Homo sapiens: one gene and its partners. The protein of the gene in region 1 purifies or fractionates together with the protein of each later gene. This does not show direct contact. Each region holds a gene or a part of one and is shown on either strand. Other genes may lie near its edges. The genes, in order: LGALS8, LRRC8E, SLC12A4, KIAA1549, CSPG4, SLC12A6 and ITGA7.

Evidence for each region.
Region 2: the proteins of LGALS8 (region 1) and LRRC8E purify together in Homo sapiens (affinity purification with mass spectrometry; 3 studies listed by BioGRID and IntAct, with this or other methods). This does not show direct contact.
Region 3: the proteins of LGALS8 (region 1) and SLC12A4 purify together in Homo sapiens (affinity purification with mass spectrometry; 3 studies listed by BioGRID and IntAct, with this or other methods). This does not show direct contact.
Region 4: the proteins of LGALS8 (region 1) and KIAA1549 purify together in Homo sapiens (affinity purification with mass spectrometry; 3 studies listed by BioGRID and IntAct, with this or other methods). This does not show direct contact.
Region 5: the proteins of LGALS8 (region 1) and CSPG4 purify together in Homo sapiens (affinity purification with mass spectrometry; 3 studies listed by BioGRID and IntAct, with this or other methods). This does not show direct contact.
Region 6: the proteins of LGALS8 (region 1) and SLC12A6 purify together in Homo sapiens (affinity purification with mass spectrometry; 4 studies listed by BioGRID and IntAct, with this or other methods). This does not show direct contact.
Region 7: the proteins of LGALS8 (region 1) and ITGA7 purify together in Homo sapiens (affinity purification with mass spectrometry; 3 studies listed by BioGRID and IntAct, with this or other methods). This does not show direct contact.

The regions. Positions count from the first base shown.
Region 1 is NC_000001.11:236,526,982-236,530,481, forward strand, and holds part of LGALS8 (galectin-8), read left to right. Parts: intron 1-3,500.
Region 2 is NC_000019.10:7,891,510-7,895,009, forward strand, and holds part of LRRC8E (volume-regulated anion channel subunit LRRC8E), read left to right. Parts: intron 1-2,063; exon of another isoform or gene 2,064-2,350; intron 2,351-3,010; exon of another isoform or gene 3,011-3,500. UniProt on the Homo sapiens protein: Non-essential component of the volume-regulated anion channel (VRAC, also named VSOAC channel), an anion channel required to maintain a constant cell volume in response to extracellular or intracellular osmotic changes.
Region 3 is NC_000016.10:67,962,138-67,965,637, reverse strand, and holds part of SLC12A4 (solute carrier family 12 member 4), read left to right. Parts: intron 1-1,585; exon of another isoform or gene 1,586-1,610; coding exon of another isoform or gene 1,611-1,707; intron 1,708-2,078; coding exon 2,079-2,173; intron 2,174-3,500. UniProt on the Homo sapiens protein: Mediates electroneutral potassium-chloride cotransport when activated by cell swelling. May contribute to cell volume homeostasis in single cells. May be involved in the regulation of basolateral Cl(-) exit in NaCl absorbing epithelia.
Region 4 is NC_000007.14:138,974,890-138,978,389, reverse strand, and holds part of KIAA1549 (UPF0606 protein KIAA1549), read left to right. Parts: intron 1-3,500. UniProt on the Homo sapiens protein: May play a role in photoreceptor function.
Region 5 is NC_000015.10:75,681,849-75,685,348, forward strand, and holds part of CSPG4 (chondroitin sulfate proteoglycan 4 precursor), read right to left. Parts: coding exon 3,371-3,500; intron 3,065-3,370; coding exon 2,888-3,064; intron 1,194-2,887; coding exon 995-1,193; intron 894-994; coding exon 759-893; intron 612-758; coding exon 445-611; intron 1-444. UniProt on the Homo sapiens protein: Proteoglycan playing a role in cell proliferation and migration which stimulates endothelial cells motility during microvascular morphogenesis. May also inhibit neurite outgrowth and growth cone collapse during axon regeneration.
Region 6 is NC_000015.10:34,250,782-34,254,281, forward strand, and holds part of SLC12A6 (solute carrier family 12 member 6), read right to left. Parts: intron 1,604-3,500; coding exon 1,389-1,603; intron 277-1,388; coding exon 118-276; intron 1-117.
Region 7 is NC_000012.12:55,684,068-55,687,486, reverse strand, and holds the end of ITGA7 (integrin alpha-7 isoform 2 precursor), read left to right. Parts: intron 1-1,172; coding exon of another isoform or gene 1,173-1,285; intron 1,286-2,198; coding exon 2,199-2,429; 3' UTR 2,430-2,919; downstream 2,920-3,419. UniProt on the Homo sapiens protein: Integrin alpha-7/beta-1 is the primary laminin receptor on skeletal myoblasts and adult myofibers.

The DNA of each region.
Region 1 (3,500 bases):
AGAAATAGCCTTTCAGTGGTAGTAAGTTTAAAAAAGATGACTTCCTGAAGCGGAAGCTTGTGAGACATTTAAGATGACTTTGCGCATGTTAGAGTTAAAAACATCCCAAGGTTGTAAACTGATTTCCTGCAAAGATCTTAACAACAACAACAACAACAAACTAGGCTGCCTGCCACGGGTGTCTGAAGTATCATCTTGGCTCAAGCTGGGAGAATGGATAAAGGTTACACTGTTCATTTCTGCCCTTCACACAGAAAAGAAGATAATTTTATAGGTAAAATTCGTGCATATCTTGATTCTAGCATACTGCTGATTCCTGTAGTTTCTGGGGTCAGTACTCTCAACTATTGAGGTGGAACAAAAATAAGTAGACTTCATTTCTTGAGGAAGGGGATCTGGAGAAGTAGTTCTGCGCTAGAGCAGAAAATGCCTTCAGTCTTGTGGCATGGGCTGGATGCTGTTCTGAGGATAATGCATTTCCAAGGGAGATATTTTTGGCAAATAGCTTTTTTTTCTTTCTTTTCAAAATTCTCTGTTTTATTATCAGTTCTCACAAAAGAGTCGGAAAGGTTAGAGGTAGACTGAACTGAATGGCAAAAACATTTTGCGCTCTCTTTACGTTTCACTGCTGTAAAATATTTATAGTATAAAGGGCCTGTATTGCACTGAATTTCTCTCATTTGTAGCTAGTTGCCCTTTCAATGTTCCAAAAAAAAAGGCTGTAAATAACTTATTTTATTTATTCAATTAATTTTTTTTTTTTAATTTTTTGAGATATAGTTTCCCTCTGGTCACCCAGGCTGGAGTGAAATGATGCAATCTCGGCTTACTGCAATTTCTGCCTCCCGGGTTCAAGCAATTCTAGTGCCTCAGCCTCCTGAGTAGCTGGGACTGCAGGCACGTGCTACCATGCCCGGCTAATTTTTGTGTTTTTAGTAGATATGGGGTTTCACAGTGTTGGCCAGCCTAGTCTCAAACTCCTGACCTCAGGTGATGTGCCCACCTTGACCTCCAAAAGTGCTGGGATTACAGGCGTGAGGCACCATGCCTGGCCAACTTAGTTATTTAAAGATAATCAATTAGTATATTTTATAAGCTAGACTTAGGAAAACGGTTTTCAGCTGGGCATGGTGGCTCACACCTGTAATCCCAGCACTTTGGGAGGCCGAGGCAGGTGGATCACGAGGTCAGGAGTTCAAGACCAGCCTGGCCAAGATGGCGAAACTCCGTCTCTACTTAAAAATACAAAAATTAGCCAGGCGTGATGGCAGCCTCCTGTAATCCCAGCTACTCGGGAGGCTGAGGCAAGAGAATCACTTGAACCTGGGAGGCGGAGGTTGCAGTGAGCCGAGATGGTGCCACTGCACTCCAGCCTGGGTGACAGAGCGAGACTCCATCTCAAAAAAAAAAAAACCCCCCCACACACAAAACCTGTTTTCTTGAATCATGGTTGTTTTGTTACTGATAGGTTCAATAAGTAAATATATTTATTGTCTGTTGTATTCTTTATTAGGCATTATAAACACACCGCCACTTTTTAATTTTTATTTCATTAATGTTTCCAATTTTTTTTTTTTTTTTTTTTTTTAAGACAGAGGCTCGCTCTGTCATCCAGGCTGGAGTGGAGTGGTGCAGTCTTACCCCACTGCAACCTCCACCTCCTGGGCTCAGCCTTGTAAATAGCTGGGACTACAGGCATGCACCACCATGCCTGGCTAATTTTTGTATTTTTTTTGGTAAAGACAGAGTTTTGCCATGTTTCTCAGTCTGGTCAAGCACTCCTCCCGCCTCGGCCTCCCAAAGTGTTGGGATTACAGGCATGAGCCACCATGCCTGGCCTATTTCTAATATTTTGGTCCACATTGGTGTTAGACCAACTGTCCACATTAAGTTTTCTTGGAAAAGATGAAGTAAATATTGCAACTGGCCTATGTATTTTTTTCCCTATTTAGTATATTTCTTTGACTAGTTCAACTGATAGAATTCCAAGACTTAAAAAAGTCAGGCTCTAAGGCTGGGTCCAGAGGCTCATGCCTGTAATTCCAGCACTGTGGGAGGCCAAGGCTAGTGGATCACTTGAGCCCAGGAGTTCAAGACCAGCTTGAGCAACATAGTGAGACCTTGTCTCTCTATAAAAATACAAAAATTAACTGGGGATTGTGGCGCATGTCTGTAGTCCCAGCTATGAGGAAGAGTGAGGTGGGAGGATTGCTTGAGCCCAGGAGGTTGAGGCTGCAGTGAGCTGTGAGTTTGACACTGTGCTTCATTCTGGGTGACAGAGCAAGAACCATGTTCAAAAATAAAAATAAAAAGTCAGAGTCCGGGTGCTGCGGCTCATGCCTGTAATCCCAGCACTTTGGGAAGCCGAGGCGAGAGGATCACTTGAGGTCAGGAGTTCGAGACCAGCCTGACTAACACAGTGAAACCCCGTCTCTACTAAAAATACAAAAATTAGCCGGGCATGGTGGCGGTGGCCTGTAATCCCAGCTACATGGGAGGTTGAGGCAGGAGAATCACTTGAACCCGGGAGGTGGAGGTTGTAATGAGCCAAGATTGCACAACTGCACTGCATCCTGGGCGACAGAGTGATACTTCATCTCAAAAAAAAAAAAAGAAAAAAAAAGTTAGGCTTCCTTTTCTGTTTTTTTTTTTTTTTCTTTCTTCTCTTTTTTTTTTTTTTTTTAAGAGATGGAGGCTTGCTCTATTGCCCATGCTGGAGTGCAGTGGTGCAATCTCGGCTCACTGCCACCTTTGCCTCCTGGGTTCTAGCAATTCTCCTGCCTCAGCCTCCCGAGTAGCTGGGACTACAGGCGCACACCGCCACGCCCCGCTAATTGTTCTTTTGTATTTTAGTAGAGACGGGGTTTCACCATGTTGGCCAGCCTGGTCTCGAACTCCTGAGCTCAGGCAATCCGCCCGCCTCGGCCTCCCAAAGTGCTAGGATTATAGGCGTGAACCACCGTGGCTGGCCACTTACTTTTCTTTCTATTGAATTTGAATGAATAATTTGGAAGACAGTATCTTTACTTCATACCAGGAATGCTGCCAGTGAAATTTCTTGTTTGGCAGTTCATTATCTACCTATATATTTAATTTTGCTATTGTTTATAGAGTTCTTAAGATATGATTAAATGCTAGCTGGTTAAGAAATCATTTAGAAATGAAACAGAATTGGTTGTTACTCCAAGTTAATAAGTTGCTTGTCAACATAAATCCTACCTGGTACCCAGTTTTCTTAGGAACCTTGCTTCCATGTTTATCCTTTTCTGCTTAGTATTCTAAGTACTCCTTTTTTACCTTACAATTTAGTCTTAAAACACAACACAGTCAAGTCTTTCTTTTGTAACCTGTGAGATACCTTCTAGCCTTTGTGCTGTTTTTCTTCTCTTTTTGCTGCCTGCCTTCCTGACTGAGAGTGGATTTCCTCACTAAGGCTCTGCCCTCTGATTTTTCACTCTCTTTTCTTTTTTGGTTTTACTAGTGAAATTTTGTCTTTAATG
Region 2 (3,500 bases), on another chromosome or scaffold:
TTGGTCCCTGCTCGGGTGTGTGTGTGTGTGTGTGTGTTTGTGTGTGTGTGTGTGTGTTGTGTGATTTCTTCTGCAGCCTCCAGAGTCAGGAGTTTTTGTTTTGTTTTGTTTTTTTGAGACGGAGTCTCGCTCTGTCGCCCAGGCTGGAGTGCAGTGGCGAGATCTTGGCTCACTGCAGCTTCTGTCTCCCGAGTTTAAGCAATTCTCCTGCCTCACTCTCCTGAGTAGCTGGGATTACAGGCATCCACCACCATGCCTGGCTAATTGTTTTTGTATTTTTAGTAGAGACGAGGTTTCACCATGTTGGCCAGGCTGGTCTGGAACTCCTGACCTCAAATTATCCGCCTACCTTGGCCTCCCAAAGTGCTGGGATTACAGGCGAGAGCCACCGCGCCCGGCCCCAGTCAGTAGTGTTTTGCTTGCTGTGTTTGAGATAGGGTCTTGCCCAGGCTGGTTCATGGCTCACTGCAGCCTCTAACTCCTGGGTTCAAGCAATCCTCCCACCTCAGTCTTCCAAGTAGCTGGGACTACAGGCATGCACCACCACACCTGGCAAGATTTTAGATTTTTTTTTTTTTTTTGAGACGGAGTCTCGCTCTGTCGCCCAGGCTGGAGTACAGTTGTGCAATCTTGGCTCACTGCAGGCTCTGCCTCCCAGGTTCACGCCATTCTCCTGCCTCAGCCTCCCAAGTAGCTGGGACTACAGGCGTCTGCCACTATGCCCGGCTAATTTTTTGTATTTTTAGTAGAGACGGGGTTTCGCCGCATTAGCCAGGATGGTCTCAATCTCCTGACCTCGTGATCCACCCACCTCGGCCTCCCAAAGTGCTGGGATTACAGGCGTGAGCCACCGCACCCGGCCCAAATTTTTAGATTTTTTTGTAGAAATGGGGTCTGACTATGTTGTCCTGGCTGCTCAAACTCCTGGGCTCAAGCAATCCTCCTGCCTCAGCCTCCCAAAGTGCTGGAATTACAGGCCTGAGCCACTGCACCCAGCCTGGGGTCAGCATTCTTAGGTAAAGCAACTGAGCAGTGTCCCTGCAGGATCCTTGGAGGACTCAATGGATGGCCGGAACCAAAACAGGACGTGAGGGTCCCTGGTGCTGGGTCCCTCCGAAGCTCAGTGTGTGTACTTGGACTTTATACCCTCGTGCACAAATATGCATGACCCAAAATGACCCCAAGCGTCCATTTTGGTGGGTGCAATGTACATATTCTTCCCCTGGGGACAGTTGAGCTATCCTGGTATGTTTCTACCAGATTACATACTGGTGACCCAGGCAGACTGGGATATTTGTAGTCGGGTTTCTTTTCTCTTCTCTTCTCTTTTTTAGAGACAGGGTCTTGCTCTGTCGCCCAGGCTGGAATGCAGTAGTGCAATCTTGGCTGACTGCAACCTCCGCCTCCCGGGTTCAAGGGGTTTTCGTGCCTCAGCCTCCCGAGTAACCGGGACTACAGGCACCCTCCACCATGACTGGCTGTTTTGTATTTTTATTTTTATTTTGTTTTAGTTTTGAGACAGAGTCTTGCACTATTGTCTGGGCTAGAGTGCAGTGGCGCAATCTCAGCTCACTGCAACCTCTGCCTCCCAGGTTCAAGCGATCCTCCTGCCTCAGCCTCCCTAGTAGCTGGGATTACAGGCACCTGCCACCACGCCCAGCTAATTTTTTGTATTTTTAGTAGAGACGGGGTTTCATCACGTTGGCCAGGCTGGTCCCTAACTCCTGACCTTGTGATTTGCCTGCCTCGGCCTCCCAAAGTGCTGGGATTACAGGCGTGAGCCACCGCACCTGGCTAATTTTTGTATTTTTAATAGAGACGGAGTTTCACCATGTTGGCCAGGCTGGTCTCGAACTCCTAACCTCAAGTGATCTGCCCACCTCGGCCTCCCAAAGTATACTTGGCTTTTTGCTTAGGGCAGGGAGTGTGAATGAGCATGAGGGCCAGGCCATGGTGCGAAGGACCCTGTGCTCTGGGCACCCCCTTGCATGGATCTGGGTCTGGGTGAGTCACTGCCTGAGTCAGGGAACCCATGACTTTTTTTTTTTTTTTTCCCGAGACAGAGTCTCGCTCCGTCTCCCAGGCTAGATTGCAGTGGCACGATCTCAGCTCACCACAACCTCCGCTTCCCGGGTTCAAGCGATTCTCCTGCCTAGCTGGGACTACAGGTTCATGCCACCATGCCCGGCTAATTTTTGTATTTTTAGAAGAGACGGGGTTTCACCATGCTGGCCAGGCTGGTTTCGAACTCCTGACCTTGTGATCCGCCTGCCTTGGCCTCCCAAAGTGCTGGGATTACAGACGTGAGCCACTGCGCCTGGCCCAACCTATGACATTTTACACTTGCATGGTGAGTCCCCGTGTGGGCAGGCTGTACCCACACCCTTGCCTGCCTATCTGATTCCCCAGACTGAAGTGGGGGCCTCTGAGGGGGTAAAAGGATGTGGTCTTTCGGGACTGCTTGGCCTTTAGCTTGGTGGGTGGAGCCTGTATCCTACCTTGTTTTAACCCAGGAGTCACCCCAAAATATGGGGGGGACACAAACTGAAAAGGGAGGCTCAGACATGTCAGAACCATTGGCTGAGTCGTGGGTCAGGGGACCAGGGTTTCCCTAGATTCTTCCTGGGGAGATGGATGGGGAGCCAGAGATAACTCCCTGATGGGCAGATGCCCTCCTTCTTGGCCCAACTCCTGTCCCGTTACAGATTATCTTTGTCTTTTGTTTTGTTTGTTTGAGATGGAGTCTCACTCTGTCACCCAGGCTGGAGTGCAGTGGCACGGTCTCACTTCACTGCCACCTCTGCCTCCCCGGATCAAGACCCTCCCACCTCAGCCTCCAGAGTAGCTAGGATTACAGGTGTGTGTCACCACACCTGGTTAATTTTTTGTGTATTTTTAGTAGACTCTGGGTTTCACCATGTTGGCCTCACTGGTCTCGAACTCCTAACCTCAAGTGATCCACCTGCCTCAGCTTCCCATAGTGCTGGGATTACAGGCATGAGCCACCGCGCCCAGCCCCAGTTACAGATTATCTATCTGGACAAGGACAGGAGGCTCCCAGGAGTGGGGGAACTTGGATGTTGGCAGAAGTGGGCTGGTCTAAGGTTCCCCACCTTCCTTGTTCCACCTCCAGCCTCTGGGGAAGTAGGTACCTGCCTGGGAGAGTGACATCTCAGCTCATGCCCCACGCCCCAGTGTGATTTGTGGCTGGCCTGTCTGTATCTGTAATAGTGATAGCTTGGTCTAAAAGGAGACCCTGGGAACAGACAGAGTGGGCCGGCCAGGAGCCTGACAGCACAGCCCTAGCCTGGTCGCAGATGTCACCTGACAACTTTCCATTTGCAAATCCTCCTTCCTCCTCGGACATCCGGACACCCCATTGCCCCCTCTCAGAGCCCAGGTCTCTGGTTTCTGCCTGTGATTCTGGGCTGTAGCCCCTTTAGAAACTCAGGTGTCCTGGTCACCTCCTACCCCCAGGGCTGACTAGCCTTCAGCTTGGC
Region 3 (3,500 bases), on another chromosome or scaffold:
GACCAGGCAACAGTGATGGGGCAGGCTGTAGTACATGAGTTTAGAATAAATTATAATTGATTTCCAGCCTACTTCCACAAAAGAATCAGAAGAAATAGCCAACAAAAGTGTCTCCCCAAGTGATTGTTACTCTCAGGAAGATTGAAAACCATGCAGAGGAAGGGGGCAAGCACTCAGGTGAGACAGATGGTGACTTTATCTAAAGAGTAAATTTAGCTTGGAGATTCCTGGCAGCCAAAGCAGAAAGAGAAGTAAGACGAGCTGTATAACTGGCATTTTCTGACAAAATGAAGCACCTGATTTATCAAAGGGAGACACTTTTTTTGTCACAAAAATCCAAAAGTAATTTTCAAAGGCTTTTCACTGAAGAGCCATTAATGTCATTAATGTAAGAGGCAGAGTGTTACTGGGTTTTCAGATTTTTCTTGGGACTCCTTCTGATCCTGAACAAGCATGGAGGGTACAGCAGATATCATAGAGTGTCCGACATGACCCCGCCTGGCTTTAACATGACACGGTGGACTGTCTTGACCTCTGGCTGCCTTTGTCCACTGTGCCATTGGCATTGACCTATGTGAATGTGGGGCTGAGCTGCTTGGCTCACTTAGCTAGTCCAGGTTGCTGGGTGTAGCAGGTGTGCCACTTTCACATGCTGTGGGAAGGAAGAACTGACTTTGCCCCAGAAACTGTCATGGGCACACTTGATTTGTTAGTTTCCTTGGGGGATAAAGAATCCACAGCACAGCACCTGCTGAGTGGTTGTTGGCTCAGAGAAAGCAATTGAAGCCTCATGCTGATAGCAAGAGATGTATCAGATACAGGAGGATGCCTCAATCAGCATTCTCAGCTGCAGTCAAGAAAAATGAATTGTGGCCTATGTAAACAGAAAAGGTTGGCGGGCATGGCCAGTGCATGGCCCAATCACACCACTAGCCTGGGCTGGTGGTGACAGTTCTGTTGCCATCTCCATCACTGGACACCATGCCAGTCCTTCTCATGTCAGAACTACATACTGCTGCCATCCAACACCAAGATGTGTGCTTTCCATTTGCTGTGAGGCCTTGAGCCAGGGCCGGGGCTGCGAGGGTAGCTGGGGTGGAGGGAACACTCAGCACCTAGAAAACGAGTGCTTGGCGTTCTGCTTGGTGGGAAGCTGGGAATGGCACCCACCGAGACTCATAAGGGACAAGAGTTGGAAAACAGGGAAGAATGAATGATAGGAGGCCAGAAAAAACAGTCGAGCTTTGGGAGTTGAGGCAGGCTTATTGAAAAGGAGCATTTCACTCCTTTTGGCGAGATTTCTCAGAGCTGGGGCACTGGCTCATCAGCCTAGGGCTGTAGGCGGAGGTTTGCCTGGGGCAAGCGGCGGGATCTGCGGGCAAGGGGGCCATTGTGTTGCTCCTGCCAGCAGTCCCAGCTCCCATTTTTCTCCCTGCTCAGTCCGACACCCACCCGTCCGACTTTCTTAGGCAACCCTAGAAGGCTCCTGGAATCCACTTCCGCTCTCCACGGCCTGGGGCTTGCCCCACCTCCCGGCATGCCCCGGGCTGCCCTGCAGGACGCCCCCCGCGCAGTGCATGGTGGGGTAGCCAGCCGGCCACCTTTGGGCCATGGCAGCCGAAGGTGCTGTGTGCGGCTTCGTCTATCTGGAGGGCACTGCCTGGGCGGTCCCTGAGGACACCGAACCCTTGGCATCCTGCACATTGGGTACTCCGGAAAGACCGGGAAAGGGACTGGGGCGTGGAGGCGATCTGGGGGCGGGTCAAACGCTGGCCCCGCCCCTCTGCAGGCCCCGTCCCTCAGTGTCCATACGTGCTTGTGCTAGGGCGCCTGCGCCCTCACCTGGATTCCCTTCACTGGAGGGAATGATGTCCCAGGTTTTGGTCACTGGCCTCTCTCTGGCTATCCCTGGGCCTTCAAGAGCATTGGCACGGTGCCATGTGAAAACTGAGTTGCAACCTGGTGACACTGCAGCTCCAAAGTGCTCCACAGAAATGATTTGGGGACTGGCTTTCTGGGAAGGGGCCCAGGCTGGGGGGCTCAGGAAGCAGGCCCTGATTGTCCCTCTCTCTTCACAGGACATGGCAACCACAGAGAGAGCAGCCCTTTTCTTTCCCCCTTGGAGGCTTCCAGAGGAATTGACTACTATGACAGGAACCTGGCACTGTTTGAGGTAGCTGAGGAGCCATTTTGGGCCACAGGTTTGGCACACAGAGGCTTTAGCTAAGCAGGCAGGCTGGACACGTGGGCCTCCTCTGTCTTGCTCTTCCTCTCATCTCCTCTTGTGTTCCTGGTTCTCATGGCAGCCGGGCTGCAGTTCCCTTGGCCCTTTCAACTGAAACTGCCTTTCCAGAGGCCACTCACAATCCCACCCCCATTGCTACCTCCAGGGTGGTTCACCTCTGACTTCCTTACAACCCCTCAGCAAGGAAACGCCCGCTTAGGATTTCCCAACTCAGGATTTCTCCTCTTCCTTCCACTCCTGGTTCTTCTCCAAGTCCATGGTTCTTCGCTCTCCCATGGATTCTTCCTTGTCTTTCTTGGTTGACCCTTCCAGCTCTGTCCCTCTCTAGTTCCCTGAGTCCTGGTCCATTTGCAGCTTTAGGGGATACGTCTCTGGAAAGATTCCCAAATATCTGCCTCTGTACTTGAGTTTTATCTTCTTCAGACTCAAGCTGAGCAGTGAGATCTGGATTTAAGACGTAGTTTAAGCTCCTAAACTCTGACCCATGCATTCAGCCACTGCATGGCTGAGTAATGGAGACTCCTTAATCTGCCTTTTTTTTCTCTTTCTTCATTTTGAGATGGAGTCTCACTCTGTCGCCCCAGGCTGGAGTGCAGTGACGCGATCTCAGCTCATTGCAACCTCTGCCTTCCAAGCTCAGCGATTCTCCTGCCTCAGCCTCCCGAGTAGCTGGGATTACAGGTGCCCACCACATGCCTGGCTAATTTTTGTGTTTTTAGAGACGGGGTTTCACCGTGTTGGCCAGGCTGGTCTTGAACTCCTGACTTCTAGTGATCCTCCTGCTCAGCCTCTCAAAGTGCTGGAATTACTGCTGTGAGCCACCACATCTGGCCGAGGCTCCTTAATCTCCACATGCCCCCAAGGGCCCTCGTCTTCCTTTCTCACACCAAAGCAACTTCTCCCTGTGTGTAGGTCAGAAAGGAGCTGACAGAGAGGGAAAAGCTAAATGTGGGCAGGAGGCAGGTAGAAGCACAGCCTCGAGAAGGCTGCAGGAGCAGGGATCATCGCCTAGACCCCGGTGGGGCTGGGGGACCTGAGCTCTGGGAGGCCTCCTGACCTGGGAAAGCAGCAAGGTTCTGCGGTGAAGGCCTTGGCCCAGCCCCGCCTGAGGATGGGCTGGAGGATCAGGATCCCATCTCCGCGATTGATGTGGGTACTTGCAGGACTGGGGTCAGGGGAAGACCATCCAGGGAGATCAGGGTTTGGGCAGACAAGGGAGACTTCACTTGTCCCAGACATCACTCTTTTGCCCTCT
Region 4 (3,500 bases), on another chromosome or scaffold:
CCATCCACAGTATAAAAACAAAGAATCATGCCCAGTTTCTTCACCTTATTCAGAGATAAGTTTTTAAAAAGTAATAGTTATTATGAAATAGATTGCTTTGTAGGGAATTTGGAAATTACTGAAAGGTACAGAAACCAGTCACCCATAATCTCACAGCCTGTAGGTAACACTAAGTAATTTTATCGTTTTTTTGTTGTTAACATTAAAAAAAGAATTATATGCACAATTGTATTTACTACCATTTCCACTCTACATTTAACTTAAGCATTTTTCCATTCATTAAGTCTTATTTGAAAACTATTTTCTATCCTAATGATTTATTCTTTTATTTCCATTTTTTGGGTTGCTGTAAGTAATGCTGATGAATAGCTACATAGAGAAGGCTCTGCTGGCCATGCGCGCTGGCTCACGCCTGTAATCCCAGCACTTTGGGAAGCCGAGGTGGGCGGATCACCTGAGGTCAGGAGTTTGAGACCATCCTGGCCAACATGGTGAAACCCCGTCTCTACTAAAAATACAGAGATTAGCTGGGTGTGGTGGCATGTGCCTGTAATCCCAGCTACTTGGGAGGCTGAGGCAGGAGAATTGCTCGAACCAGGGAGGCAGAGGTTGCAGTGAGCCGAGATGGCGCCATTGTACTCCAGCCTGGACGACAGAGCAAGACTCCGTCTCAAAAAAAAAAGGCTTTGTGCATGTTTCTTTCCGTGTGTGTGTGTGTGTGTGTGTGTGTGTGTTTTCTTGAGTATACATTTGTGGAAGGGGTATTAGAGTGTGATTAAAATGTAAGGCCCACCAGGCTGGATTTCTGCATCTTTTGTTCAAAATGCTGGGCCCCTAGTAGGTACTCAGTATGTGATTTTTGAATGAAGCAATTTTTGAAAGTTATAATGCTGACATAAGCCCTTGAAGCTTACGCAGGGGCCTTCCATTATCACTTGCATTGAGTATTCACTTCATCACTGGCATTGAATGTTACTTTAAAAGCCCTTGTTAAATAAATTTGTAATACATTGTTTTAACCTGCACGGTTTTATTGCTTTAGAATTGAATATTTTTTATTTTGTATTTGTATTCTGTGAATTTTCTCTGTATTTTTATTTATTTACCTGTTGTGGCATAGATATGTATTTAAATCTTTATGTATTAGAAGGATAGCAACCATTTTTCCTTCTATATGTTGCGTTTTCCCCTTCCAAAGGAATTTCTTTTAAATTTTACATAATTTTGAAATGTAGAAGTTTTTGGTTGTTTTGATTAGCAAGATCTGCCATTTGTTCTTTTAATAATTTTTTTATTGCATTTATGCTTATGGTGTGTGAAATTTTTTTCTTAATGTGCTGTTTTATTATTGGCCATTTCTAGGTGAATATTTATGCTTTGTGAGTCGTTTAGGATATTATAAACAAATACTTAAATGTTTCAAAAGTGTGGCCCCTAGGCCTCCTGCATCAACATCATTTGGGGATGTGGGGGTGCTTGTTAAGAATTTAGATGTCTACGACTCACCCTTAGCCTCTAAATTAGACTCTTTGGTGGCAGTGCCTGGGAATCTTCATTTTAACAAGTTGACAGCTCCGTTTTAGCCCCTGAGCATTGGAACCACTGATCCGGATATGGTAAACCCAGTAACTGAAAATTAACAGTATTTTGAAGATATAGTAGTCCCTCCTTATCTGCAAGGGATGTGGTCCAAGACCCCCAGTGGATGCCTGAAACTTTGGGTAGTACTGAAGTCTGTATATACCATGGTTTTTTCCTATATGTACATACCTGCAATAAAGTTTAATTAAAAAATGAGGCACAGTAAGAGATTAACAATAATAACAAAACAGAACAGTTCTAACAGTCTACTGTAATAAAACGTGAATATGCTGTATCTCAAAATACCTCAGAATATCTCAAAATATCTTCAAACTGCAGTTGTCCTCCGGTATCCGAAACCTTGGAGGAGGGGGACTACTGTATACCATTGGTATCTTGCAGTTGTCTTTTCACTGTTAGAACAGCTAATTTAAAATCGTTATGTTGAGGCCGGGCGCGGTGACTCACGCCTGTAATCCCAACACTTTGGGATCACCTGAGGTCAGGAGTTGGAGACCAGCCTGGCCAACATGGTGAAACCCGGTCTCTACTAAAAATACAGAAATTAGCCGGGTGTGGTGGCAGGTGCCTGTAATCCCAGCTACTTGGGAGGGTGAGGCAGGAGAATTGCTTGAACCCGGGAGGCAGAGGTTGCAATGAAATGAGATCGCGCCACTGCACTCCAGCCTGGGTGACAGAGCAAGACTCCATCTCAAAATAAAATAAGATAAAATAAGATAAGGTAAAATAAAATAAGCATTTTTTGTTACATGTTTTTGCTTGGTTTTGTTTGGGTTGGGAGTGAAAGGGTGCAGAGGACTGCATTTTCAATGCTCACTCCTGCCCGTTTGGGAACAGCTGCTGCAGTGCTTGTCAGGAAGTGCCTCACTTAATTCTGAAAACAGAACCCAGCCAGGGAGTTGTTACAAGTCACTAGGGACGTGGGAGCCACAGGTTTTCTATCAGTGCCCTGAATGATAGAGGCAGCTAATTACCGTCATTATAATTACACTAGGTTGATTTTCCCAGATAGGAAGACACTGTTCTAACTGATCTAATTTGTTTTCAAGTTGTGACCACCCACCTTTCATCTGGAGCTCACAATGATGTGATTTCTTTTTCTTGTTGTTAGGCAGCAGGATTTGTTAAAAGGTGAGTTAAAAAACCTGGGTGTGTGCAAATGCAAATCTGCCTGTAACTTTGTGACTATGGACAAGTTACCTTGTCCTGGGTTTCCTCCTCGGTGTAAGAAAGGGTTAATGAGATTAGCGCTAATCTCATTAACCCTCTAGCTCCTTGTAGCTCATTTCTCCCTGTAGCTCCTACATATCAAGTCAACATCTTGGATGTCTTGGAATGCACTTATAAGCAGCATCTGTCCTTTTTCTGTTAGGTTGTTTTGTCATTTCTCCTTGCCTGGTAGATGTTCTAGGCCCATGACCTGCTGAAGGCAGCTCACTCTCACCATTGCAGATGGCTCTTCTTTTTAAAAACTCCCTTTATTCTTCCCTCTTGCATCCACACACTCAAGACCCATACTTTGCTTTCTCTTATTCTTTCTCTTTGTCTCTTTCTTTTTTCCATCTCCTTTGTTAGCTTCAGGCAATTACTTCTCATTAGTGAAATTCTAATCTTGTGGTCCCCACACTCTGAGCATCATCACTGCCTCTTAGCTCGCATCATCACTGCCTCCACTGCCTCGTAGCTTGTTAGAAAATGCAGAATCTCAGGGCCCACCCCCGACCTTCTGAATCAGAATCTGCATTTGACAAGATCCCCCTGGTGATTTTGCATGCACAATTGAGGTTTGGGAAGCACTGGGCTAAGAGGTAAAGTGCCTTCTGTTCTAGCCTTCTGGGAATAGGTATTGTTGGAACATTGAAGGCTAAGTCAGCCTGGACTAACTCTGGAGCTATGTA
Region 5 (3,500 bases), on another chromosome or scaffold:
CTGGCACTTGACCTGAGCCCCAGGCTCACACCTCTGCCCACAGGCCCAGCCGCTGCTTCACGTCCAACTCCATCCCCCACCAAGCACTGCCCCTCATCAGCTACTGGGGTACCACTAGTGCCCCCACATGGTGCCCCCTCTCCAGACCCTCGGGTCCGGCTGTAGCTTCCTTCTGGAAGCTATACCCCAAGACCCCAGCCCTGCTCTAGGGCCCTGTATCCCCGACTTTCTGCATCCTTCTCCCTCCTTCTGGGAACATGAACTTGCCCTGCCAGCCTGGCGGCTCCTGGAGGACAGGACACTAGCGCCTGGACAATGGCAGGCCCGGGAACGTCTGCTGCCAGTGATGCTGGAGCTGGCATCCATGTCCACATGATGTCCATGGCACAGCGGCCACCTGAGGCTGGGGGCATCTGAGTGGTGGCTGCAAAGTTGGGCCCTTACCTCTGCCTGAGTGAAGTTCACCAGGGCCTCCCCTGTGCTGTCCTGCTGGGCGTGGAACAGCCGGCCTAGCTGGGGGCCCCGCACCACACGGTAGAGCAGGAGCTGGGGGTCAGTGCCTGCGCTGGAGCTGGCCCTGAGGGTCTGACTGCTGAGTGGCTGGACGGACCCTGCCAGAGGCAAAAGGGGATATCAGATTTTGACTGGGAGCCAGGTCCAGGCCTGTGTTTGCAAAGAGGCAGCGTGACCCTGGCATGCCACCCTCAGCTCCGCCCCAGCTCCTGGCACCCAGGAATGCCCATGATCAGCACACCCACCTGGGCAGACAGTCAGTGTCTGGCTGCCCTTCAGCGAGAGGAGCACTTGCTTCTGGGCCGTCACTCGGAAGAAGTGTCCGGGGGAAGTGTGCTCGCCGTCAGAGAGGCGGAAGCGGAAGCCTCCATCCAGGGTTCCTGGGGACAGGGGCATTGGGTCCAGCTGGCCCGAGCCGGCTCCCCATCTCAGGGCACCCCCGTGGGCAGCAGGAACCCGAGGCCCGGCCCTCAGCACCCACCTCTGTGTGAGAACAGCACGAGCCCGCCGTCCAGCTGGGCCTGCGTGAAGCTGCGCACCTCAGTGCCCGGCGCCCCCCGCAGCACTACCCGCCCGTTGCTGGGCTGCTCGATGGTGTAGACCAGATCCTCAGACCCAGAGTCGCCGTCCGTGCTCCTCAGAGCCTCCGCAGGGATGGGCGCAGTGGCCCCCTCCCACATCTGGGAACACAGGCCTGTGAAGGTTCTGCCTTGCCGCACTCACCCACCCCTTCCTCCCCGGCCCTGGGCTGCCACCAGGGCTCCAGTCCTGCTGCGGCTCAGCCCCTCGGGTGGCATCGAGGCTGGCGCCACTCTGGCTCCCCTGCACAAAGGGCCTCCCGCATTCACCTTCCCTGTCACCCCAGGGAAGGCCCCAGGGAAGGTCACCCTCCAGGCCCAGCCTCCCTGCTCTCCATCTGCCCTAGTCCTGTGTGTCCCTCAAGGCCAGCTTATGTCCCCTACCCAGGAAGGCCCCAGCTCTTACCCTCACCAAGTTCTCACTCCCAGAAACCCCCAGCGCTGACCAACAGTGCTCCCTAATCTGTCTCACTGGTGGGACAGGGGTCTCCTTTCAGAGCCTCCGTGTGTGCCTGGCCGGGGCCGGGCACAGGTGGGAATGGTGATTTTAGAAATGGGCCCTCCTTCCAGCTGAGGGAGGGGTGCGTGGCGCAGAGAGTGGGGGGCTGATGGTTGGCACTGTTCTGCAGCACAGAATCAGCGTGGGATGGGCCCAGGTGCTTCCAGAGCAGTTAGGGGCCCTCCTTATGTTGGGCAAAGGGGACCCCTTTTTCAGGCCTCCCACTTGCAAGCAGAGCAGGTGCCTGTTCCTGAGGTCCTGGTACCAGTCTTGCTGGGTCAATTACTTGCGGGCAGAGCTGCAGTGGGACTCACATGCCCGGAAAACAGAGCCTTCTGGCATTCCTGGGCTTCCTCCCCCGGCCCCAGGGAGCCCTCAGGCCCAGCCCTGGCAGGAGGGGCCATAATGTTGCGGGGCAGGACCCCAGCACTAGGCTTCTGGAGCAAACACAGGTAGATGGCACCACCTGGTGGCTGTGCTGCCACACAGCCGTCCTGGCCTGTGGTTCCAGAGCACTGTGTCCCACTCTTTGGCGGCTTCCGCACCACCAGGCCACCCGCTACGGGCACATCCTAGACCACCAAGGCCCCGCCCCCACCCCCGCCCCAGGCACCCCATGCCAGAGACAGCCCAAGTCAGCCCTTTATGGAAACTTCAGTGGCTCCTGCTGACCGGGGAGGATGCACCCCAGAAGCTGGGGTTCAAAGCCCTGCCATGTGGGCTTTGTAAAGCCATGCCCTTTCTGTTCCACCAGAACTACTTTTGCAACCATGGAGAAGTTCCATCCCACGTCTGGGCCTCAACTTCCACCTGCAGAGTGGGGCCCTTACCTCTGCCTGAGCGAAGTTCACCAGGGCCTTCCCTGCACTGTCCTGCTGGGCGTGGAACAGCCTTGTGCAGGAGTTTGGGGAGCCAAGCCATGGCCTTCACTTGCTGGGTGAAGGTGGGAAACTTAACAGCTTCCGCCCTGATGCCTGCCCTTAAGGGCTTGTAAGTGATTCTGTCAGATGTTCTGGTCCTTAGCCACAGAAGAAGGAACAGCAGAGCCACCCGTGGCCGCTCAGAAGTCTGCCTACCATACTTGCAAACATCCAATAAAAAAACTTCCCACCTGTGTTCTATTTCAGCACAATCTCACTTCTCTCCTTCCAACAACCCCGTGAGGCATGTGGCAGCGTCCCCATTTTGCAGAGGAGGAAACTGAGGATCAGAGCTGGGGGAGCTCTGAGCCGCGAAGTAGGGGACGCTGGCCTCTTTCTCGAAGCAGACATGGGGGTGTTCCCAGGGATGCTCTCACCTGCAGGCCTGTGTTTGTAGTGAGGATGGGGGGTTGGTCATTGACAGGCAGGACAGTGACAGTGAAGGCCACAGGATGGCTCTGGCGATCCATCTCGGAGGCATTAGCCATCAGGACAAAACTGTCTGTCAGTGTCTCGCTCCCGTCATGCACGTAGCGGATCAGCTGCTCTTCCACCTAGGGGCAGGCCCAGGGCTGGCAGTCAGGCCCCAGCAGCACCCTTCATGCCCTGCCTTTGGGTGCAGGAGGAGACTGACTCTTTTAGGGCTTCATTTTCCATTGGTAGAAAATGGGGACCATAAGTTCTGGCTCCGAGGAGTTGTGAGGAAGAAAAGATATATGGTATTTAAAGCATAGGTGCTTCTGAAATGTGACTCCCCGTCTCCTCTCTGTGTATAACCCCCAGACTGGGAGTCCCCAGGGCTCCCTCCACTCTGCCCCCAGAGCTGGGCTGCAGCCCCTGGGCCTCTCTCACAGCCATACCATTCTCCAGGAGAAGGCGCTGAGGGTCCTGGCTTGAGGTCCGTCCTCCTTCTGCAGGGCTCCATGCTGGGGTGGCTCCAGCACCTGCAGGCTGAGGCCCAGGAGAGTGGGGAAGTAGGGCCCGGAGACA
Region 6 (3,500 bases), on another chromosome or scaffold:
TGATACTGATAGCAAAGAGTAGAAGCAAATCTAGGAACCCTGAGAATTCTGCCTCCTGAGAAAAATCACTCCGTGGGTCTGACAGCTTCTAAAATATACAACAGCCTATGTGTTTACCTGTAACAGAGGGAAAGAAGATTCCCACCAGAAGCGTGAAGGAGGTGGTGATGTCAACAAGAACATATTCATGGTTTAAGCTGCCTAAGACATCAGAAGATTTGGCTGAAGGCTTTTCGATGATCTCTCCCTTGGGTAGGTAATTACTCCAAAGATTCTCTGCAGTGGGAAAAATGGGAATTTAAGCAGCAGCAGTATGAAAAAAAAAAGATAATTAATTTTCTACCCAAACATTCAAAATCAGGCTCCTCATTTATACAGTTTCTAAAGGTGTGTTTGCTTCTACATGAGCACATGTATACACACACATTGCACAATAAAACACACATAAATAAAAACATAGTTTTTTTTTTGTTTGTTTGTTTTTTGAGACAGAGTTTTACTCTGTCACCAGGCTGGAGTGCAGTGGCACAATCTTGGCTCACTGCAAGCTCTGCCTCCCAGGTTCACGCCATTCTCCTGCCTCAGCATCCTGAGTAGCTGGGACTACAGGCGCCTGCCACCACGCCCAGCTAATTTTTTATATTTTTAGTAGAGACGAGGTTTCACCATGTTAGCCAGGATGGTCTCGATCTCCTGACCTCATGATCCTCCCACCTAGGCCTCCCAAAGTGCTAGGATTACAGGCATAACCCACGGCGCCCAGCTAAACATAATGTTCTTTCTTATCTAATTTAAATATAATTTGACAAAATGATTTGGTACATGCAAATATAGTTTAACTTTACTAATGCAAATTAGTAAAAGTTAAACAGACTAAAACTAAATGCCCCACAAATCCCATTATTATTTGTCATCAGTGCTGTTTCTAACACCTTAATGTAAACTTACTTATGTGCAAAGAAATTTATAGACCAAACATTTATAATAGAAGACACTTAAGGAATGTTTCAGGAATTTAGCTAAGTTAGGAAGATACATGTGGATGTGGACATTAAAACAGGTCTATTCTGTCAGTGCAGGAAGAACATTGGCAATTTTACAAGAATACACGGAATATTTTACCGTAAGGTTAGAAAGTGATTTGCTCAACTCTGCTCTGAAATGGAGGTGAATTTTAGCAGACATCACTCTGTAAAGGAGTACTGAATAAGGACAGCTTTACTAATGGAAAAGCAGAAATATGGTGAATTAAGAGCTGTGTGGTGTGCTTAAGAAGGGAATTAGCACCATGGCAGTGAATCTTTATGGACAGTAGAGGAATCTAAGATGACAAGGCCTATTTTCCCCAGAAAATAGGAAAAAACTTGTCCAATAACTCCCTAACTTACCTGTAATTATACCACTAGCCAATCCAGGAATGCCCTGGATTGAAGTGACGTTATTGTGAACAAAGTATTCATCACAGGTGGCATTGAAAAATTGACTCGAGTTACAGAAGAATCCCCATAACTTTGATGGGACTGTCATGTTGTTAATTTCCTTGGTCTTAGAGCAAACGTCAATGTGTCTTGATGAAAGGGTGCGGTTACCCAGCATGCAGACCCTAAGTGAAAAGAAATAGGGAGAAAGATCAAGTAAGGAAAAAAAGTACATTAAAAAAAAAGGAAACAGGTTAGTAAAGGAAACAAGAACCCCATCTTTAAGAGCTTCTACTGTTATGGGTGGGAAAGGAACTAATGTTTATTTATTTATAATTTATTTTAACACTGTGAATGGTGACTTACATTTTCTGCCAATTTAATACTTACAGCAACCTCACAATGTATTAGAATTTCTATGTTGTGGATGGAGGCACTGAAGTTTAGGAAGACAGGGAGTTAATTGAAGGTTAGGGAAATACAGTTATCTGTCCAAGGTCATAGGTGGTGGCAGTGAAGGAAGTCAAATTGAAGAACTGTCTGAAGACATTATGCTGACTCATCTTCCAAAATTTTTGGCTAAAATTGTTAGGTCTAAAAGAATACTGAAGTCCTTTTGTTGTTCTTATAAAGTAAAAAGCACTCCTCTTTTTTTGGCCTAGAAAAGCCTAACATTCATAACAAACACCTTGAAAATGTTATGCTAAAGGTTGAATCTTCTGGCTACTGTTGCAAGGAAAACAGCTTGGTCAGAATTAAAAGGCAGATCCCTCTATGGCCTAAGAGAAAACTGTTTTTGAATTTAAGCCTAGACTCAGTGGGAGTGACGGTAAGGATAACATAAATATTAACCTGCTGGTTTTACTTTTTTCTTTAACCCAGAGACACAAATATAAACAAAGGAATAATACATCCATAGTTAAAATACCTCTCAGGTCCAACAAAGGGACTTCTAAAATTTGCAAAATGATTGAATACATTATTATGAACCATGTACCTATTACTCAGCTTCAACAACTCTCAACATTTCCCAGTCTTGTTTCATGTATTATTCTAGATTTTTTGTCTTGTTTTGCTGGAATATCTCAAAGAAAATACCATGCATTATGACCGTGTACTAATCAAAAAAGAGGAGAAGCCCCAAAGGTGAACCTGAGACAAAATGGAATTTCCCAAATTGAGATATAACCAGAATGTCACCTTTAGAAATTTTATGCCCCTAAAAAGGACCTTCAGCTGTATTACAGTCCCTAGATAAGCAGATTAAAAGTTTAAGATGGAATCTACTTCTGCCATCATGCAGCATAGCATAGAAGAAATACTGAATGGGGAGTCAGGAAATCACAGTTCATCTTCTTGCTCTGCCATTAATTAACTTTGAGGTAAGTCATTAAACCTACTGGAACTGTCTTTTTGTCTTGAAAAATCTTTTTTTCTGTAATCTGGTTAAATCAACATAGAACCGATGAGTTTGATCCTCAGATAATCCAGATGACTCTTCAAGATAATTCTGTAACAAGACTACAAATAACACTGAGTGCCAGCTAGTCCCTATGCCACTAGTCAAAGGGAAAAGTGAGCCTGTGAGTCACAGATGTGCACAAATCCATTACTACTTCAAAAAACATACTTTAAAGTATTCGCACTAGGGAGTTGAAGGAGGTGGTGAATGATGAGAGAGTACTTAATGGGTACAAAGTACATTATTTGGGTAATGGATAAAAGCCCTGACCTAGGCTGGGCGCAGTGGCTCACGCCTGTAATCCCAGCACGTCGGGAGGCCAAGGTGGGCCTTATAAAGGTTGCTGGCAATAACTACACTGTCTGCAAAGCCCTTTATGAATAGTTCAAAATGTGTATAATAAAAAAAGATTATGTACAATTATCAGGGAGAAAAAAATCTAATATCTGAACCTAAATGATGGTTACAGCTACTAGTTCTATGCTTAGGACATAAGAAAGAGGATGAACGGGACATAGTTTGCTGGTAGGCTTCCTGCCTAGATGAGGAAGGAAGTCTAACTGGGCTTATCTGAGAGGGAAAATCTCAGAGAGACTCTATGAAATTCTGACTTAAAATTA
Region 7 (3,419 bases), on another chromosome or scaffold:
CCGGGCATGGTGGCTCATGCCTGTAATCCCAGCACTTTGGGAGGCTGAGGTGAGTGGATCACCTGAGGTCAGGAGTTCAAGACCAAGCTGGCCAACATGGTGAAATCCTGTCTCTGTTAAAAATACAAACAAATAAAAAAAATTAGCTGGGCATGGTGGGGGGTGCCTGTAATCCCAGCTACTTGGGAGGCTGAGACAGGAGAATCGCTTGAACCCGGGAGGTGGAGGTTGCAGTGAGCCAAGATTGCGCCACTGCACTGCAACCTGGGGGACTGAGCAGGACTCTGTCTCAAAAAAAAAAAAAAAAAAAAAAAAAAGAAATCAGATGCAGATCTCGTTCTCAGGGATTTTATAGTCCAGTGGGATGGGAGTGGTGAGCCTGTAGTCAAGGACAAGGCAGGAAGTGTTGAGTTGAGAAAATGGAGTGGGAGTTTAGAGGGAAAAAAGCTTGAGAGGAGGTAGCACTGGAACCAGTCCTCAGAGGAAGGTGGGGTAGTAGGGTGAGGATGTAAGGGGATGAGGTAGGTGGGGTCCAGCAGGACCATGGTAGGCAAAGTCGTGGAGGCAGAGAAGTGTGATCTGACTTAACTAGAATGTGGCAGTGAAAACTGGAAAGGTAAATGTGGCCAAGAAGGCCAACAAGCACGGAGAACGGCCTCCAGGGGACTGCCCTCATGGCGGAACTCAGAGCTTCCACATACCAGGCTCTGCATGGAAGCATTCTTGTACACCCAGAGCTGTATACCGAATCATACTGGTATCCAGGGCTCAATGTAAAAGTATGCACATGCACACGTCAGTACACGGAATCACATACATCACCGGGGTCATATGCTGAGCCATCTGCCACATCGGGGGCTATGTTCAGAACCACACATGTCCTTGGGGCTCTGGAGAACTGCCCCTGCCTGTGCCTGCTCTTTGGGACCAATCAGAGACTGAGCCACCCTTTGGCAAGTGTGAATCATCAGTAGACCAGGCTCTGGAGTGGCATCCAAGCTGTTGGGAACCTTCCCAGTCTTAGGGGAGATTGATGCCTCTGTGAAACTGGTCCCAGGATGCTTGCTCCCTGCTCCCATGGAAGGAAGACAGAGCAGAGATAGGGGATCCTGTCCTTCCTCAATCTTTCCATCCTCTGCTTCCTCTGCCCTGCTTCTCCCTCGACATCCTAGTGTGGCTTCTTCCATCGGAGCAGCCAGAGCTCATCTTTTCCCACCAACTATCACCGGGCCTGTCTGGCTGTGCAGCCTTCAGCCATGGAAGTTGGGGGTCCAGGGACTGTGGGGTAACTGTTGTGTGTGTGCATGTGTCTAGTGTGTGTGGGTATGTATGTGTGTGAATATAAGGAGAATTCCCAGCATTCAGGGGATCAGGAATGTTCAGGGTGAAAAATGAGATTGCATGAGAGTGATGTGAGGTGAGAGGTAATTAGAAGGGTGCAGATATAAGGGTAAGTCTACACAGCCTGAGGCGTGCACAAAGGGTTGGTGGGCTCATGGGGTGTGAGCATGTGGGAGTGTGGGGAGGTCGCATGCATGCTTTTTTCTATGGGCATGAGTGTGCAAGGAGATGAATGTGTAAGGAGATGCCATGCAGTCTGAGCATGTAGGAGTCCTGGGCCTCTGAGTGTGAGTGTGCAGGGGCACATTCCCACCCTGGTGTGTAAGGGCCAGCATGGTCCTCATTTAGGGTGGGGCTAGACTACTGTATTGATGGACAAGAGGGTATTGCTGTAAGGGGCGTGCCGCCCAAGGTACAAGTACACGGGGTGCATGTTTATGAGGCTTGAGAGGTATCATTCCAGAGATGCAGGGGACTAGGAAGCCATTTTCTTCCTCAGGTCTTGTTTGTGTTCTGGGGGACACTATTGGGTCTCTTAAGAAGCTAGAGGGGGTACAAATCTTGAGTCCGGTCCTGATGCTCCACCCTCAAGGCCCTCTTTCAGGGGCCAAGGGAGATACCCTTGGTCCTGCCTCTTGGACGCCCTTCTGGTCTCTCTCTTGCTGTGAATGAGAACCTGGGGACACAGCACTGATGGGAGCACCGTGGGTGCTGCCCACCACACCAGATGCTATTCAGCCTATTTCCTTTCTGCCGCAGCAGGGATGGTGAGGGTGAGGAGCTGTGCCGCGCTAGGCATCTGCTCCAGGGACCGCAGCTCTTCAGGCTCCTCATGGTCTGGCCTGGTGTCCTTATAGATGGGATTCTTCAAACGGGCGAAGCACCCCGAGGCCACCGTGCCCCAGTACCATGCGGTGAAGATTCCTCGGGAAGACCGACAGCAGTTCAAGGAGGAGAAGACGGGCACCATCCTGAGGAACAACTGGGGCAGCCCCCGGCGGGAGGGCCCGGATGCACACCCCATCCTGGCTGCTGACGGGCATCCCGAGCTGGGCCCCGATGGGCATCCAGGGCCAGGCACCGCCTAGGTTCCCATGTCCCAGCCTGGCCTGTGGCTGCCCTCCATCCCTTCCCCAGAGATGGCTCCTTGGGATGAAGAGGGTAGAGTGGGCTGCTGGTGTCGCATCAAGATTTGGCAGGATCGGCTTCCTCAGGGGCACAGACCTCTCCCACCCACAAGAACTCCTCCCACCCAACTTCCCCTTAGAGTGCTGTGAGATGAGAGTGGGTAAATCAGGGACAGGGCCATGGGGTAGGGTGAGAAGGGCAGGGGTGTCCTGATGCAAAGGTGGGGAGAAGGGATCCTAATCCCTTCCTCTCCCATTCACCCTGTGTAACAGGACCCCAAGGACCTGCCTCCCCGGAAGTGCCTTAACCTAGAGGGTCGGGGAGGAGGTTGTGTCACTGACTCAGGCTGCTCCTTCTCTAGTTTCCCCTCTCATCTGACCTTAGTTTGCTGCCATCAGTCTAGTGGTTTCGTGGTTTCGTCTATTTATTAAAAAATATTTGAGAACAAAACCTCTGCCTCTTTGAGTCTTGCTCTGGCATCCCCAGCATCTCTGATTCTCCCTGGTGCCCCCAGCTCAGGAAGAAGGTGGTAGTGGGGAGAGAGGGTCAGGGGGGCTTGGCAGGGATGCAGGCACCATGACTTTTGTGACCAGTTCCTAGAGACGCATGGGTGTAGCCTCAGGAGGAAAGCGAGAGGAGCTTTACCATGGGAACGAAGGAAAGGGACAACATTGGGAGGCAAACGTTGGGAGACTAGTCCAGAAACTTGCAGTTGAGGATACAACAGGGTCCTAGTGTTTCCTCCCTGGGTCAGCGTAGAAGTAGAGCTTTTTCACTGTCGAAGGCGGGATTGAAGTTAGAGATTGCCCTGGCAGAGGTTGGGGAGAGAGGGACTAGTAGGTGGTACATGAATGTCTTCTCTCATTCTGCTAGGTCCCTCTCAGTGGAAGATAGATAGGCTGGTGGGTGGCTTGTTCTAATTGGAGGCTGGGGAAGGAGCAAATGAGTGC